Regions from separate parts of the Homo sapiens genome. Here region 1 is linked to region 2. A link means that fine-mapping ties the variant in region 2 to the expression of a gene that starts in the linked region. Tissue or cell type: whole blood. Region 2 holds a variant in brackets; the other region holds the start of a gene. All regions are shown on one strand. Distances are between the middles of the regions.

The links. PIP is the estimated chance that this variant, and not a neighbour inherited with it, causes the effect.
Region 1: MED17 starts here. The variant in region 2 is fine-mapped to the expression of MED17 in whole blood (TOPMed, PIP above 0.99). The same link has a PIP of 0.9 or more in lung.

The regions. Positions count from the first base shown.
Region 1 is chr11:93,779,383-93,787,382 of GRCh38, reverse strand. It overlaps MED17 (mediator complex subunit 17), which reads right to left and starts at 3,101. Exons shown (of 12, transcript NM_004268.5): 1 at 2,620-3,101. The coding sequence starts at 2,869. RefSeq lists enhancers at 317-816, 2,825-3,044, 2,986-3,280 and silencers at 2,369-2,563, 2,565-2,694.
Region 2 is chr11:93,806,699-93,814,941 of GRCh38, reverse strand. It overlaps MED17 (mediator complex subunit 17), which reads right to left. Exons shown (of 12, transcript NM_004268.5): 10 at 7,307-7,424; 11 at 5,066-5,225; 12 at 1-3,089. The coding sequence ends at 2,878. Among named protein-coding and RNA genes, the nearest start is that of MED17, 27 kb to the right of the region's middle. The variant G/A (reference allele first, on the strand shown) is at 3,866.

The DNA.
Region 1 (8,000 bases), 27 kb after region 2:
GGAGTGCAGTAGCGCGATCTCAGCTCACTGCAAGCTCCACCTCCCGGATTCATGCCATTCTCCTGCCTCAGCCTCCCCAGTAGCTGGGACTACAAGCACCCACCACCACGCCCAGCTAATTTTTTGTATTTTTAGTAGAGACGGGGTTTCACCATGTTAGTCAGGATGGTCTTGATCTCCTGACCTCGTGATCTGCCTGCCCCGGCCTCCGAAAGTGCTGGGATTACAGACGTGAGCCACTGCGCCCGGCCCCAGTGAGTGTACCCTTTCAAAGGTTTTTCTATGCACTTACATACATCTATTTCCAATTTTCTATTACTTGCCTTTCCCCCGCCCCCACTTAATATTTCCTAGAGACACTTCCATGTTAGTACTTATGAGTCTACTTAATTCTTCTAACACTGTATGATATTCTGGAACATGGATGTACGGTATGTTTAACCACTTGTATTTAACGGACATGTAGATTGCTTCCAACAAGTAAACTGCTTCCAACAATGCTAGCAGTGGTAAACATCTTGAATATATACCCTGTATATGTGCAACTTTTTCTGCAGGTTAAATTTTTAGTCGTGGTAATAGTGAATCAAAGGAGATATACATTTAAAAGTTTCGGCTGGGTGCAGTGGCTCAGGCCTGTAATCCCAGCACTTTGGGAGGCCGAGGCAGGGTGGATCACCTGACATCAGGTATTTAAGACCAGCCTGGCCAACATGGTGAAACTCTATCTCTACTAAAAATACAAAAATTAGCCAGGCATGGTGCCGCACGCCTACAGTCCCACATACTAGGGAAGCTGAAGTGGGAGAATCGTTTTGAATCCAGGAGGCAGGGGTTGCAGTGAGCCGAGATTGCACCACTGCACTCCAGCCTGGCCGACAGAGCAAGACTCCATCTCAAAAAAAAAAACAAAACAAACCAAAAAAAGTTAAAATTAAATGTTGGCACATATTAAACTGCCAAATTGTCTTTCAGAATCACTACCAGTTCACATTCCTAACCCTGAATATTAACAATCTTTTCAATTTCTGTCAATTTTGTGCATGGAAAGAGTATCTTAATCATGTTTTAATTTCCCAGTCCCTAGTAATGAGATTGAGTCTATGTTCTGTTTATTGGTATCTGAAGTCTCTCCTCTATGAGCCTTCAGATACCTTTGGCCTATTTTTCCAAAGTGTCATTATTTTCTTTTCAGTCTGAAGGGACTTTTTGAATAGAGAAGATATCAACTAAATTTGTGTTATATGTGTAGAACTTCTCCCAGTCTGTCATTTATCTTTTTACTTTGCTTATGGCATCTTTTCCCATTATTTTTAAATTTTATGTAAGTAATATATCTATACTTTGTAAGGTAGGTAGGTGTGTGGTTGTGTGTGTGGATGTTAGAGTCTTGTTCTGTTACCCAGGCTGGAGTGCGGTGGCACAATCATAGCTCACTGCAGCCTTGATCTCACTGGCTGAATCCATCCTCCTCCCTCAGCCTCCCCAGTAGCTGGGACCACAGACGTGCACCACCACGCCCAGCTAATTTTTTTAATTTGTAGAGGCAGGAGCTCCCTATGTTGCTCAGGCTGGTCTTGAAGTCTGGGCTCAAGTGATCCTTCCACCTTGGCCTCCAAAAATGTTGGAACTACAGGTGTGAGCCACCATGCCTGTCCTGTTATTTCCGAAATTAAGAAGATCTATCCGACTCCCAGAATAATACAACTATTCTTTCATTATTTCTTCTAACACTTTGTTTTACTTTCTTCATTTGGCACTTCAATCCTCAAAAATTACTGTGGAAATAATTTTTGTGTGAGGTATAAAGTAGTATTTACCTTTTTTTGCAAATAGACCCCTAATAATCCTAACAGCACTGCCCTGAAATGACATCTTTAAATTCCCATTTACACTGGGTGTGCTGCATAACTAAATTAAGAATTTTGATTTTTTTTTCAAAAATCCTTGACAATAATGAGAATCTGAAACCCACTCATTATTTCTTCACTTCCCTCCTAGTCTCCTCCCTTCCAGTTTTGCTTTCCCTATAATTCATTTATTAGAAAGCATCTAGAGTAAACTTTAACAAAACCATCTCTACTTATCCTGCAAAAGCTTTCAGTGGTCTTAACACTAGTCAAACGCTTATCCCGGCCTACTGGGTTCTACATGATCTGGACCCGCCTACCTCTTGGACCTCGTCACACATTTCAGTCAAAACAGACCTCTTTTCTGCAGGTGCTACTATCATCATTCACACCGCACAAGGATGCAAAGTAACTCGCCCAAGGTCACACAGCCGGCAAGGGGCAGAGCCCCGATCTAGGGCTCTTTTAGCCACTAAGTGTGCTACATTAAAGGCCCTCTACAGAGAAGCATTCATTTAAACATTTCACGGTTTGACAGTGTCTCTAAACGCTGCCATTCAAGGAGACCCGCAGGAGTATTACGTAAAGTCGTGTCCTACCTTGTCCGGCAGCAACAAAAAGATGACGACCAAGTATCCTTACGCTTCCGCTAGAGGGACACTCAAAAGTTCTCGCACGCACAAGATCACCCCCATCGCGGGAGAGGCGGAGGCCCGCGCGGGTGCTGGGACCCAGACCGGGGGACTCGGGCAGCGGATGCAGGCCTTACCTTCCTCGTCGTCCTGGTCTGCGCTGGACCCGGCGCCCGGCCACTCCTGCGCGTCGCCCTCGGTCCCCGCCGCCTCCTCCTCCTCGGAGCCCGAACCCTGGCTGAAGTCTATCCGCTGGGCCAGACGCGCCAGATTCTGCGACATGGACAGCGGGGGCAGGTACGTCTCGGTGCCATCCAGGCCCACCTCATGGACCTGCTTCTCGCAGGCCGATTCGATGCTGATCCGCACTGCGCGCACCCCGGACATGCTGGCTGCGTCGGCCAGCGGTGGGAGGACCCCCCACGAGCCAAAAAACGAGGTACGAAGAGGAGGCTTCCCTGCGGAGAGCCGGGAACTCAGAAGCCCGCAGCCGCGGTGCCTCAGAAGACCCTCGGGAAACCGAACGCAACGCTCAGACTGGAAACAAAGGAGCTGGCCCAGCAACTTTCCCAGAACGCACCGCAAGCTCCCTCCTCGGTAAGTCTTTCGGAGCAAAACTGGGCAGGCGCGGAAGCTCCAGGGTTCCCTAGAGCGCTTCCGGTGAATCACGGTGCAGGGTGGGGTAAACTTCCGGGCCTATAAGAGGCGTGGCCGGCAGAGGGAGGGAAAGAGCGGTTTGGGAGCCGAGAGTGTGGCGGGTATATTCCTTGCTTTTTAAGCCTGCGTTTGTTTAAAAAGTGGATGAGGAAAGAAAGCTGCAGAGGCTAGAAGAGTTAAGGAAAAGGAAATTAATGGATCCTTGGATCTTAGCAATGAGAGTCCTGTTGAGAGAACTGAGATCTGGTGGCGCGCGCCTGTGGTCCAGCTACGCGGGTGGCTGAGGCGGGAGAATGGCTTGAGCCCTGGAGATGGAGGCTGCAGTGAGCCGAGATCTCACCGCTGCATTCCAGCCTAAGCAACAGAGTGGGATCCTGCCTCAAAACAAAAGTTATTTTAAATTAGCAAGAAATTTTTTAAAGAAACACTATCTGAAGAGTTAGAAATTAAGGGCATGGCTTGGGGGAAACAATCGTGCTTATCACCACTTAAAATTATACTACGTAATTATTTGGTTTCCTGTTAGTTATAACTCTATGACAGCCAATATCTGCAGCAGACATAATAGACTCTGGCATGTAGTAAGTGCTTAATATTTATTTTATGCCCGAGTAACAGAATAAATAATGTTGATCTCGCTTTTTTATTAGTGATGGGGTCCCACTATGTTGCCCAGGCTGAGTGCAGAGGTTATTCACAAGTGCTGTCAGCACGCTACAGCCTGGAGCTCCTGGGCTCCAACGATGCTCCTGCCTTAGCCTCCTGAGGAGCTGGGACTATAGGAGCGTGTCACCATGCCTGGCCTGCAAATAATATTTAAAAGATTAAGAAGAAGTGGTATAACTTCAGTCTTTGGGTCTCCAAGAACGTATTTCATTAGTAGGAATTCCACAGACAAAGATGGATTATTTTATATTACAAACCTCTATATTTCGTTTAAGGAATTATATATACCGTTTATCATGAGTGTTTGCCAGGTTTTGTTCTGACCAAGATATATCTAGGTTTTGAACTACTTTCCTAAGGTATTTAGGAAAATACGGTTGCCCTGGTGTCAGTCCCTGCTGAAGAAGAAAGTAGATGGCCGTGTGTGGAGGGGGTTGAATTTTCATGAGAGAAACCTATTTCTGGCAAGCTGTACAGTCTGTCGCCCAATCATGTTCGAGAACCACTGTACTTGCTTTTCGTGTAAATTTGTTTAAAAATTTTTTTTAACTTTATTTTAAAATCTGATTAATAGCCAGGCGCAGTGGCAGTCTAATAGTGCAGACAAAAACAAGACAACAACAAATGATTATGATTCCTAGAATAAGCAAAGCTTTTGCCACCAAGTCTTCAAGATCAAAACTAGCTGCTTAGCCAGTTGTTTAAAGATGTGTTGGATCTGAAAGGTTAGTTGTTAAGGTTTTCATATTATCCATTAACGTAGTGATATTATCTGATTCATCTGGGATACAGACATAACACACAGTTTTTATGATAATGCAAGTTCCTCCCTGGGCTTCGGTGAGTATGTCAAAAGCCATACGGTTTTGTAATAATGGCCTTTTCCATAAGAATAACTATTGTTTAATAATGGAATACTTATGTAGCTATCTTTTGGGTATAATTGGTTAGGACCTCTATATGCCAAATAACATCTTCAACACTCAGTTGTGGTATGAAGATGGAAGCTAAGTGATCATACCAATGAAACACAGGATGAACCCAATGAGATCATAAATAAGGAAAATTTGCAGGTTTTGGCAAAGTACAAACTACTCAAATATATGATTAAGCATAACCTGAAAAACATCATCCTAACTATCCTGGAAGTAACCATGGTCATAGGTTAGTGCCACATAGCCAAAATGTTCCATTTGGAGCTAATCAATAAATACATTAAATGGCATGCCAGTCAGTACTTTGTAATATAATGGTGTGAATACACAGTTCTTTGGGTATCCATGCCATATCTCCAGTGCTTTTGGGCCAGATATCTTTGGTATGATTTCTTTGTTCCCAACATAAAGGGGCAAAGTGGCCAGGCACGGTGGCTCACGCCTGTAATCCTCCACTTTGGGAGAATGAGGCGGGTGGATCACCTGAGGTCAGGAGTTCGAGACTAGCCTGGCCAACATGACGAAACCTCGTCTCTACTAAAAATACAAAAACTAGCTGGGCGTGGTGATGCATGCCTGTAATCCCAGGTACTCAGAAGGCTGAGGCAGGAGAATCACTTGAACCCAGGAGGCAGAGATTACAGTGAGCCAAGATCTCACCACTGCACTCCAGGCTGGGCAACAGAGTAAGACTCTGTCTCAAAAAAAATAAATAAATAAAAAGTTGGGGTGGCAAGGACAAGGTGGCTGGGCTGACAGAAGGAGGGATAAGCCAGATAAAACCATCCCCAATTTGTGTTATACCATTCTGAAATCAAGGTGTCTTATCTCTTAATTGGAACAGTGTCGTTGTTTCATTACTTAGTTGGGACAGTGCCAGCATTAAAGTTAACAAACTAGTTTCTTTTACTAAGAAGCTCCTTCCATGGCTTTTACTCTGTAAAGGTTTTGTTTCGTTTTGTTTTGTTTTGTTTTTGTTTTGTTTTTTGAGATGGAGTTTTGCTCTGTCACCCAGGCTGGAGTGCAGTGGTGCGATCTTGGCTCATTGCAACCTCCGCCTCCTAGGTTCAAGTGATTCTCCTGCCTTAGCCTCCCGAGTAGCTGGGACTACAGGTGCACACCACCACGACTGATTAATTTTTGTGTTTTTAGTCGAGACAGGGTCTCACTTTGCTGGCCAGGCTGGTCTCAAACTCCTGAGCTCAGTCGATCTGCCCGCCTTGGCTTCCCAAAGTGCAAGGATTACAGGTGTGAACTACTGCGCCCAGCCTTTAAAGTATTATTAATAGGCTAGTGATGTACTTTATCCTTCATCATACTACTGTCAAGCACCATGACTGTTTTTAAGAAACACAAATATATTTCTGATATTCTATGCAATATCTTCTCTCCTTGGAGCAATATATTTCTTTCCTTGGAGAGAAGATACCCACCAGGAAAGCCAGAACTACTGGAAAGGGGCATGAGACCACATGTTCAATCAGCATTTTTTTAAATAATCTATTAGCATAGTCCTAAGCCCATTGCAAAAAGAGGTTTGCTTTATGGGCAACAGTTAATGATAGTAGTGCCGAGACATGAAAACTAAGGACAAAAAGAAAGAAGTTTAATGGGAGCTTGTAAAGGAAAGTCTTCCCCATGTATTAACATTTGCTAATATTAAGCATTTGTTTAGATACAGGCCTGGTTTGGAGTCTTGGGTTTTAGCCACCTACATCAGATGTTATCTTGTTCTAGACCTGTCATTGACTTATTTTGAAACAGAGATCACCTTCTGGGGAAACAGTCCCTCAGGAGATGGAGCCCTCTTCAGATCCAGACATGGATCCAGGAGTCTATTCTAGTTTCTGTTTTTTGTTTTTTTGAGATGGAGTCTCATTCTGTCACCCAGGCTGGAGTGCAGTGATGCAATCTCAGCTCACCGCAACCTGTGCCTCCAGGGTTCAAGTGATTCTCCTGCCTCAGCATCCCCAGTAGCTGGGATTACAGGCAGGTGCCCACCATCACACCCGGCTAATTTTTGTATTTTTAGTAGAGATGGGGTCGCGCCATCTTGCCCAGGTTGGTGAACTCCTGAGCTCAGGCGATCCATCCACCTTGGCCTCCCAAAGTGCTGGGATTACAGTCATGAGCCACCACACCCGGCCAGGAGTCTATTCCTTCTAATATAATAGCAAAAGGATTACTAAGAAGCACTTGGTAAGAGCCCTTCCACTTGGTTGGAGACAGTCCTTTAGAGGATGTTGTTCCCAGTAGATACAGTCTCCTGGATGAAAATTGTGGGTCTTGAATTTTTCATATCCCAAGAGCCCATTAGGAAATAATCTTTCACTAGGTAATAATTTTTAGTTAATTATCTCATAAGGTTAGAACAACAAAGGAATATATCTCCTCTTACAGTTAAGGAGTTACCATTTCCTGGGACAGATTCATAGCTATGTGAGTTATTATTTCAAATGGGTACAACTGATGTATTCCAAAGGGGTTGATCTTGGGTTAAGCAAAGCCAATAGAAGCCTTTGGCCATGGGATCTTAAAAATTTGTGTTATTGGCCAGGCAAAGTGACTCACGACTGTAATCCCAGCACTTTGGGAGGCTGAGGTGGGCGGATCACAAGGTCAGGAGTTCGAGACCAGCCTGGCCAATATGGTGAAACCCCCTTTTCTACTAAAAATACAAAAATTAGCTGGGCGTGGTAGTGAGCACCATTCCCATTCACAATTGCTTCAAAGAGAATAAAATACCTAGGAATCCAACTGACAAGAGATGTGAAGGACCTCTTCAAGGAGAACTACAAACCACTGCTCAACAAAATAAAAGAGGACACAAACAAATGGAAGAACATTTCATGCTCATGGATAGGAAGAATCAATATAGTGAAAATGGCCATACTGCCCAAGGTAATTTATAGATTCGATGCAATCCCCATCAAGCTACCAATGACTTTCTTCACAGAATTGGAAAAAACTACTTTAAAGTTCATATGGAACCAAAAAAGAGCCCTCATTGCCAAGTCAATCCTAAGCCAAAAGAACAAAGCTGGAGGCATCACACTACCTGACTTCAAACTATACTACAAGGCTACAGCAACCAAAACAGCATGGTACTGGTACCAAAACAGAGATATAAACCAATGGAACAGAACAGAGGCCTCAGAAATAATACCACATATCTACAACCATCTGATCTGTGACAAACCTGACAAAAACAAGCAATGGGGAAAGGATTCCCTATTTAACCAATGGTGCTGGGAAAACTG
Region 2 (8,243 bases):
CATCAGCAATACCTAAGGAGGCCAGGCATGGTGGCTCATACCTGTAATCCCAGCATTTAAGGGCCAATTACAATTCCTGATCAACATGAGATAATCAGGTTATCCCTTTGATTTGATGGTGTTCCAGCAAAGAAATCTGATGAAAAACACTCAATATCTTCACCATATATAAAACATCATACAAATATGAATACAGGACATTCTGAAATGCTTTCTCCTAATAAATACAGCTGGTGTCTCAACCATTTTTTCTAATTGGCTTGACTCTTAGAAGCACACTTGCTTAATGCTTTATATTTATGTAGTACTTTAGAATTTAACATTTATTACCAACGTTACTGAAACTTCTCAATCACCACTGAGGTTAGTAGAGGAGGCACCTCTATCTTCATTTATATATAAGGAAACAAGTTCACAGAGAATCCTTGCCAAGTTCATACAGCAAGCCAGTAGCAGAGCCAAGATTCAAACACAGCTCCTTGCCAACCTGTTAATACTTGTTGAGGGGCTAATTGGTTTTCTTCAAACTGTCTCCCAAGTTTCCATAGCACATCCTTCAAACTCCAGGAAATTCAGGTTAAAACATTAAACTAGAAAATGTAAATAAATACAAGGCATAAGAATTGCTACCACAGCAACTAAGCTACCATTTTCCCACACATTTGCTTTAGTTTCTACAATTCTTTAGGTCGGTACTGGCTACTCACTACAGCGACGTACCAAACAGGGAAAGTAAGACATGAAGAACGTAAAGTCTTCAGTTATCCCACTCTACTCAGATGGGGTTTAAAAGAACAGACGGTAGTATCTGCACATGTATTCTCAGCCATTCTACTCAAGGTGTGGTCCTGGTCCATGATTTGTTACTGATTCATGACAAGCAGAGAAATAAAAAATAAAGCATTCAGAAATGTTTATATTTGGGGGGGCTGGGCACTGTGGCTTATGCCTGTAATCCTAGCACTTTGGGAGGCCGAGGTGGGCGGATCAATTGAGGCCAGGAGTTCAAGACCAGCCTGGCCAAGATGGCAAAACCCTCTTATCAAAATTACAAAAATTAGACGGTCGTGGTGGCACACACCTGTAATCCCAGTTACTCGGGAGGCTGAGGCATGAGAGTCATTTGAACCCAGGAGGCAGAGGTTGCAGTGAGCCAAAACAGTGCTGCTGCACTCCAGCCTGGGGAACAGAGTGAGACTCTGTCTATAAATTCTAGTATTTGATGCAATTTAATCAAGTTATAATCAAATAAATGGGGCTTTTATTTTGTATCTTTTCAAAATTTCATTTTAGGAATTCATTTTTATTAGTTTACCAAAGTATCAATCTGCAATGGGAGAAGTTTATATAAACAAAAACTGGTCATTCAGCAAAAGTCTCAGACTCACTCTTCTAGCCTGAGCCTTCAAAATCACATAAAAGACTCCTTATGTGAGTGGAATTGTGCAGATTAGCCTATTGACCAAGGCAAATTTTGCAGGCAACAATAATTTTTGAAGCACTCAAGATTTTTAAATAACTGCAAATTCATACCAATTATTTTAATTTCCATGGATAGAAAGATGCAAGATCTTGATCAGAAGGGGAAAAAAGCACAAAGTTGTTCTATCGTGGCCCACAAGCTCCATTTTTCTTTAATGAAAACACGGTGGAGAAATACAAAGGACTTTTATTACTGCACAGTCATCTTACAAATTGTTAAAGCAGGATGTCTGTTTTAAAAATTGAAAGCCTTACTTATAAGGAGAGCTTGCCTATATGATACTACTTTCAGTGTTACCAAAAGGCTTATGAGCCTAAATCTATCCTCATATTAATGGGCACACTTTAGGCACTTTTTCCAAGAAGTGCAAACCTGTTCCTTGGAAAAGATAACCCACTAATCCATTAGTTTTTTCGCTTTGAAAAAGCAGAGAGCTGATGGAAAGGCCTTAATTGGAGAAAGCAATCCAGGGCTGCTGGGTGGAGGCTGGAGAATCCCAGGTGGAAGGCTGGGCATGAGCCATACACTAGGTGTCTCAACTGGTGAGGTCAATCAAGTGGGAGAACAGACCAAAAAAACTTGAGGACGCCCTAAAGAGATAATCTGCCTCCTATTGCCTTCAGCTGTCCTTTCTGAGGATGTTCTTAAATTACCTATGTAGGTTAGACCCAGGAAAGCTTAAAGGAGACAACTGGAGGAAGAGGTTATCAATAATTTAGAGTAGGCTGGGCATGGTGGCTCACGCCTGTAATCCTAGCACTTTGGGAGGCAGAGGCAGGTAGATCACTTGAGCCGAGTTCGAAACCAGCCTGGGCAACATGGAAAAACCCTGTCTTTATAAAAAATACAAAAATTAGCCAGGCGTGGTTGTGCATGCCTGTGGTCCCAGCTACTCGGAAGGCTGAGACAGAAGGATCACCTAAGCCTGGGAGGTCAAGACTGCAGTGAACCATGATCACACCACTGCACTCCAGACTGGGCTACAGAGTGAGATACCATCTCAAAAAAAAAAAGTTTAGAAAGTATTTGGGGGGAAAAAAAGGTATTTGGAGATTTTTTTAAACCACATACTTTATTTGATGTCAACATCAAAGAAGGAATATTTTAAAAAGCACATAGAAACCCTTAAGTTAGTAATATTTTAAACTGCATGAAAAACATATTATTTTACATCTTGTCATACTGTATATACAACTGTACATAAACTTCTGCATTTCAAAGCACTTGTCATTTATAAAGTGAAAAGTTTGAAAGTGCTAAATAAACATTTCCTAATTATTATTTTTAAAAACAGCACTCTTTTGGAAGTTATCTCTTCTTTGTGCTTATAGTTGATCTGCAAACATTTCAAGTCAAAGTTTCTGGAAACTTCTTTAGGAAACATCTGGAAAAAATCATAGTAGACAAGGGCTAAGTGCAGACATAAGCAGCTCCATTTTATAAACAAAATTTCGACCTTCCATTTTATTCCACTGAACTTCTTTGAATGGCCCACGAAGATGACTCCATTTGTTATCTTGTAAAACATCACTTTTTGGAAGGTCTTTACATTGGTTACGAGGAAACTGAACCATAATCTTGCTGCCACTTTCAGGTCCATTACGAACTGTGGAGAAAAACCAAAATATCAATACACTCTAGTTTACCAAACTAGAAATAACAAGGATAAATCCCACAACTCCATTCTACTGTGAATACAAAAACTTTGTCTACCAACTTAAATATTCTTGTAAAAAAGTGCTTTTTCAGTTTCAACATGCAAGAGAAAAACTCTAACTTCTATATAAGAGGATGGTATAAATATTCATGAATTATTATTTGTACCACAAAGATTAAGCAAGGTGAGTTTTGACCTAGGAATGTCAAATGTCCTCTATAATTTCAGGAAATCATCTTTTTGTTTGTTTCCACATGCAGCACTGAAAAACACAAAGCTTTTTTTGGGAGGCGGTTAAAGACAAGGTCTCTCTATGTTGCCAGGGCTGGTCTCAAACTCCTGGGCTCAAGCAATCCTCCCACCTCAGCCTCCCAAAGTGCTGGGATTACAGGCGTGAGCCACCACGCCTAGTACACTCACCTATTTTTTTCAATACATTCATTTGATAAGGCAATCATTCAATGAATTGTTAATACATGCCTAATATGTAAAGAAACCTCAACCACTTAAAATCAGGACTGAAAGGGATGAAGGAAAGATTATTCTGAATTAAGAATTTCAGGTTTTAATGAGGTTTTAACTATTATTTGGGAAAGAGGAAAAGGGTATTTTGAAATTCCTAGCAATCAAGATCCAGCAATGACCAAGCTTGCAGATTCACAAGCTGTGATCCTGTGAGGAAATATTTCTAACTACCCACTCTTTCAAATACAGTCATGAGCTGC[G/A]TAACATTTCAGTCAACTGCTTTTGTTGTGTTACAACTGCCTATAGTATTCAGTACAGTAACATGCTGTACAGGTTTGTAGCCTAGGAGCAACAGGCTATGCCATGAAGCCTAGATGTGCATGTAGTAGGCTGTACCATCTAGGGCTGTGTAAGTGCACTCTATTATCATACGATGAAATCCTCTTAACAACACATTTCTCAGAACCTGTCCCTGTCATTATGCAACACATGACTGTATTTTTAAAGTAGTCAGAGCAGATATCAGAAACAAAGATCACACTAAAACCATAAGCGCTTCAAATGTAAATTTAAGCTATGTAATACTCATACAAGTGCCTATTAAAGTGCCCACTCGTAGAAGGTGCTTAATAAAATACTTCTCCTCGGCCGGGTGCGGTGGCTCACGCCTGTAATCCCAGCGCTTTGGGAGGCCGAGGCAGGCGGATCATCTGAGGTTAGCCGAGGCAGGCAGATCATCTGAGGTTAGGAGTTTGAGACCAGCCTGGCCAACATGGCAAAACCCCGTCTCTACTAAAAATACAAAAATTAGTTGGGTATGACGATGGGCACCTGTAGTCCCAGCTACTCGGGAGGCTGAGGCAGGAGAATCGCTTGAAACTGGGAGGCAGAGGTTGCAGTGAGCTGAGATCACGCCACTGAACTCCAGCCTGAGCGAAAGAGCGAGACTCCGTCTCAAAAATAAATAAATAGATAAAATAAAACAAAACACTTTATTTAAAATTATTTTTAATTATTTATTTTAGAATATTTTAAAAACTGTTACTATTTTTTTAATGTGAAAAAAGTAGTACCTTGCATTAGATATTCCTCTCTGTTCCATCCCTTTACTATTTTTAGGATCAGATATTTTTCTTCCCATGTTTACAGCAGTATATATTTTTTTTAAAGTTTTTATCCATTAAACTTTGGGACTGCAGGAGTAACAATGCTGATGATACTTTTCAGACTATCTCAGGAAAATGTGCTGCCAATCTAAACATTTATTATAATTACTAGAAAGAGAAATAATAATCTCTTGCTCTGCATAATAGCTATGATCAAATAAACATTCGGTGTAAATACAACATTAACTAATTTATTGCAGAGATAAATTACTCTTACCCATATTTAATTATTAAAACTAAATGTTAAAGCCAAACTCCCAATGGTCCCTTCTCATTCAAAGCAGCAGAAAGTACCTGAAATAGCATAGTCACCACTTGGGGAGGCCACCGTGATGGCAGATGCATTACCAATGCTCTCTATAGGTCCAAGTCCCACATGATTACTGAAGCTCAGTACTTGCCAGCCCATAACCTTGGCGAGTTGCTGAACTGCATGTACCTGGTGCTGTGACATCTGTGAATGAAAAAGGACACTTGACTGACAGTCAGCAGAGATATCTGCAGTGACTTAACATCACGACCATGAAGTAAACTTTTGTTGGGGTGCTCACTGACTACTACAGCAACCCTATCTTAGGTCTGAGGAATCCTCCTGTGCGTAACTTAGGGGGAGGGAATAGGACTCCACCTTCCACTGCCAAAGCTAAAGTTGCCTGATACTTGCTTCTCCTGCCCACTGGCAGCTTAAGCAAAGACATATGACATAAATTTGGCCAACTGAAGACTCTCATCTAGATCACTGAATATGGTGTAACATTTGCCCCTTCAAATCCACTGCCTACCTTATTTTCTGCCCTGGGAGGCTGACACACGTGGTTACATTAATACCTTCTTACATCCTCTGGCTTTGGGCTGGGTTCAGGTAATGGGAGACAGCAGGATGGCAGGGAAGAGTGAGGTCAGGGTATTTATTCCCCTGGCACCCTCCCTGTGAGGTTGTCTAGGCTGGTTGTATCTCTTGACTGGCTGCTAGGCTTCTCAAGATGGACTGTTCTACACGACTCTCCCCCTTAGGGTTCTTGTAATCTGTCCTTCCTCTTAACTTTGGCCTAGGAATGGTGACCACTAAGTCCCTGGGGCCTGGTTACCTGGTTACTACTACTAGCAGCAGGTTACCACACTATCCCTGGTGGCTCACCTACACCCACTTCTTTGTAAATAGATCTTTAGATCCTCCTGAGTCTGCCACCTATTTCTTGTTAAGACTCTGACTGATACAATGGGGGCAATTTAGAATGCATTTTGTCACCAGTGCTGAAGGCAGTAGTGCTGGGACAGCATGAGTGCCATTCCTCTGGCCATGGTTCTCATACCTAGCTTTGATCCCTATCCATTTGCAAGCCTTGTTCTCTAGACCTCCCATTGATTCTGGGACCTACTCAATAGTGTTCTAATATATTTTTGTGTGTGTGCTTAAAGTAACCAAAGCCAATTTAGATGTAATCAGCCAAGAGCTGCCATACCTAACAAATGAATTTTACTTACTTGGCCACCAAAGAAGCAAATCAGTATATAAGATTATTGCTTCTGAGATATAGGGTAGGTTTTTGAAATGCTAATGCAAGATACTATTTTTTTTAATGTGAAAAAAAAATAGTATCTTGCATTAGCATTTCAAAAACCTACCCTATATCTCACAATTCAGTATTTCACTGGGTCATTAAAAACTCCATGAAGAAATTAGGGAAAATACAGTTAGATATGAAAAGAAAGGGCTAGAAATTTGTCTGATGTCACAAAGCAAGTTTGTCGTAGAGCTGGGACTAGAACACATCACCTTTTTTTTTTTTTTTTTTTTTTTAAAAAGAGATGGTATCTTGCTCTGTCACCCTGGGCTGAAGTACAGTGGGACCAATTATAGCTCATTGTAACCTTGAACACCCAGGCTCAGGCAACCCTCCTGCCTCGGCCTCCCTAATAGCTATGACTATAGGTACATACCAACACACCCACTCAATTTTCTATTTTTGTGGAGACAGGGGTCTTGCTATGTTGCCCAGGCTGGTATTGAACTCCCAACCTGAAGTGATACTCTCGCTTCAGCCTCCCAAAGTGCTGGGATTATAGGCGCAAACCACCATACCCAGCCTCAAACCCATCACTTTCTATACTGCCCCTTGGACTTGAGATTAAACTACTTCATTTATTATGGATAATGGTCATTATAGTTTTTTATATGATCTCCCTTTCTCTAGTTTTCTTCACTTTCTACAACAACTCTGGAGATGTTGTAAACCCTAGAGATTTTGTAAACCTTCACAAATATGACATGTGGGAAAAAAAACTTGCTAGTCTCAGAACTGGTCCTTCATCTTAACATAAACTATGTGAAAACCTAGGACAGCTTATCAGTACTTCCAGTTAACCAACAGGTTGTAAAATGTGCATTAGAAATTAAACAGAATTTAATTTCTACTGGAAAAAAATTTTTTTTCTTCTTACACAATTTATTACATTTTAACTACTTTTTAACCAATTTGTTCTTTAAGTAGCTATGCGAAGAAGGGGGCTTAAGACAAAATCTGCAACTGTTACCTGAGACAGAAGAAAATCCTGTAGCTCCTGCTCCTGATAAGACAGTGTAATTACTCTTCCATCTCTATGTACAACTCGAATCTGCTCAACTCCAATATTCAATTGCAGTTGAATGGACCTTTATAGACACACATACTAAAAATCAGAGATGTTCAAAATTATCTTATACAATTTCATAAATAATAAACGTTAACATCAAATTAGAAAATATTATTATTTTTTAGACAAAGTCTCAAAGCCTGTTGCCCAGGCTGGAGTGCAGTGGCGTGATCTCAGCTCACTGCAACCTCCGCTTCCTGAGTTCAAGAGAGTCTCCTGCCTCAGCCTCCCAAGTAGCTGGGATTACAGGCACCTGCCATCATGCCCGGCTAATTTTTGTTATTTTTAGTAGAGACGGAATTTCACCATGTTGGCCAGGCTGGTCTCAAACTCCTGACCTGAAGTGATCTACCTGCCTCGGCCTCCCAAAGTGCTGGGATTACAGGCCTGAGCCACTGCACCCGGCCAAAAAAAAAAGTTTTAATAACCCACACCAACATCCATGGAGGAGATGCAGGTGTCTTCTTAGGTTCAACTAAACAGACTCACCCCAGAATACCATAGACCACACTGAGTACCAGTCTACCCAGAAGCATTTGAAGCGACCACAGCTTGCCAGCAGACCATGCAACTGTCTATATAGCAGCAGAATACCTTTGTTGCAAGGAGATGAGATCCAATTGGGTATATGTGGGCCCTGCCCTAACAGGAGCCATAAGCTTCTGTAACAACTCCATAGGCATGGTTTCCACAAGCCAAGCCCAGTTTTAAAAGTCACCACCATCCAGGAAAATCCAAAGGCATTCCCATCATTTATTTAAAATTTCTCCTGGTTCAGATGCATTTTACCAATTTGAGATCATTTTTACTATAAGCAATGTTGCCTAGTAATACTGAT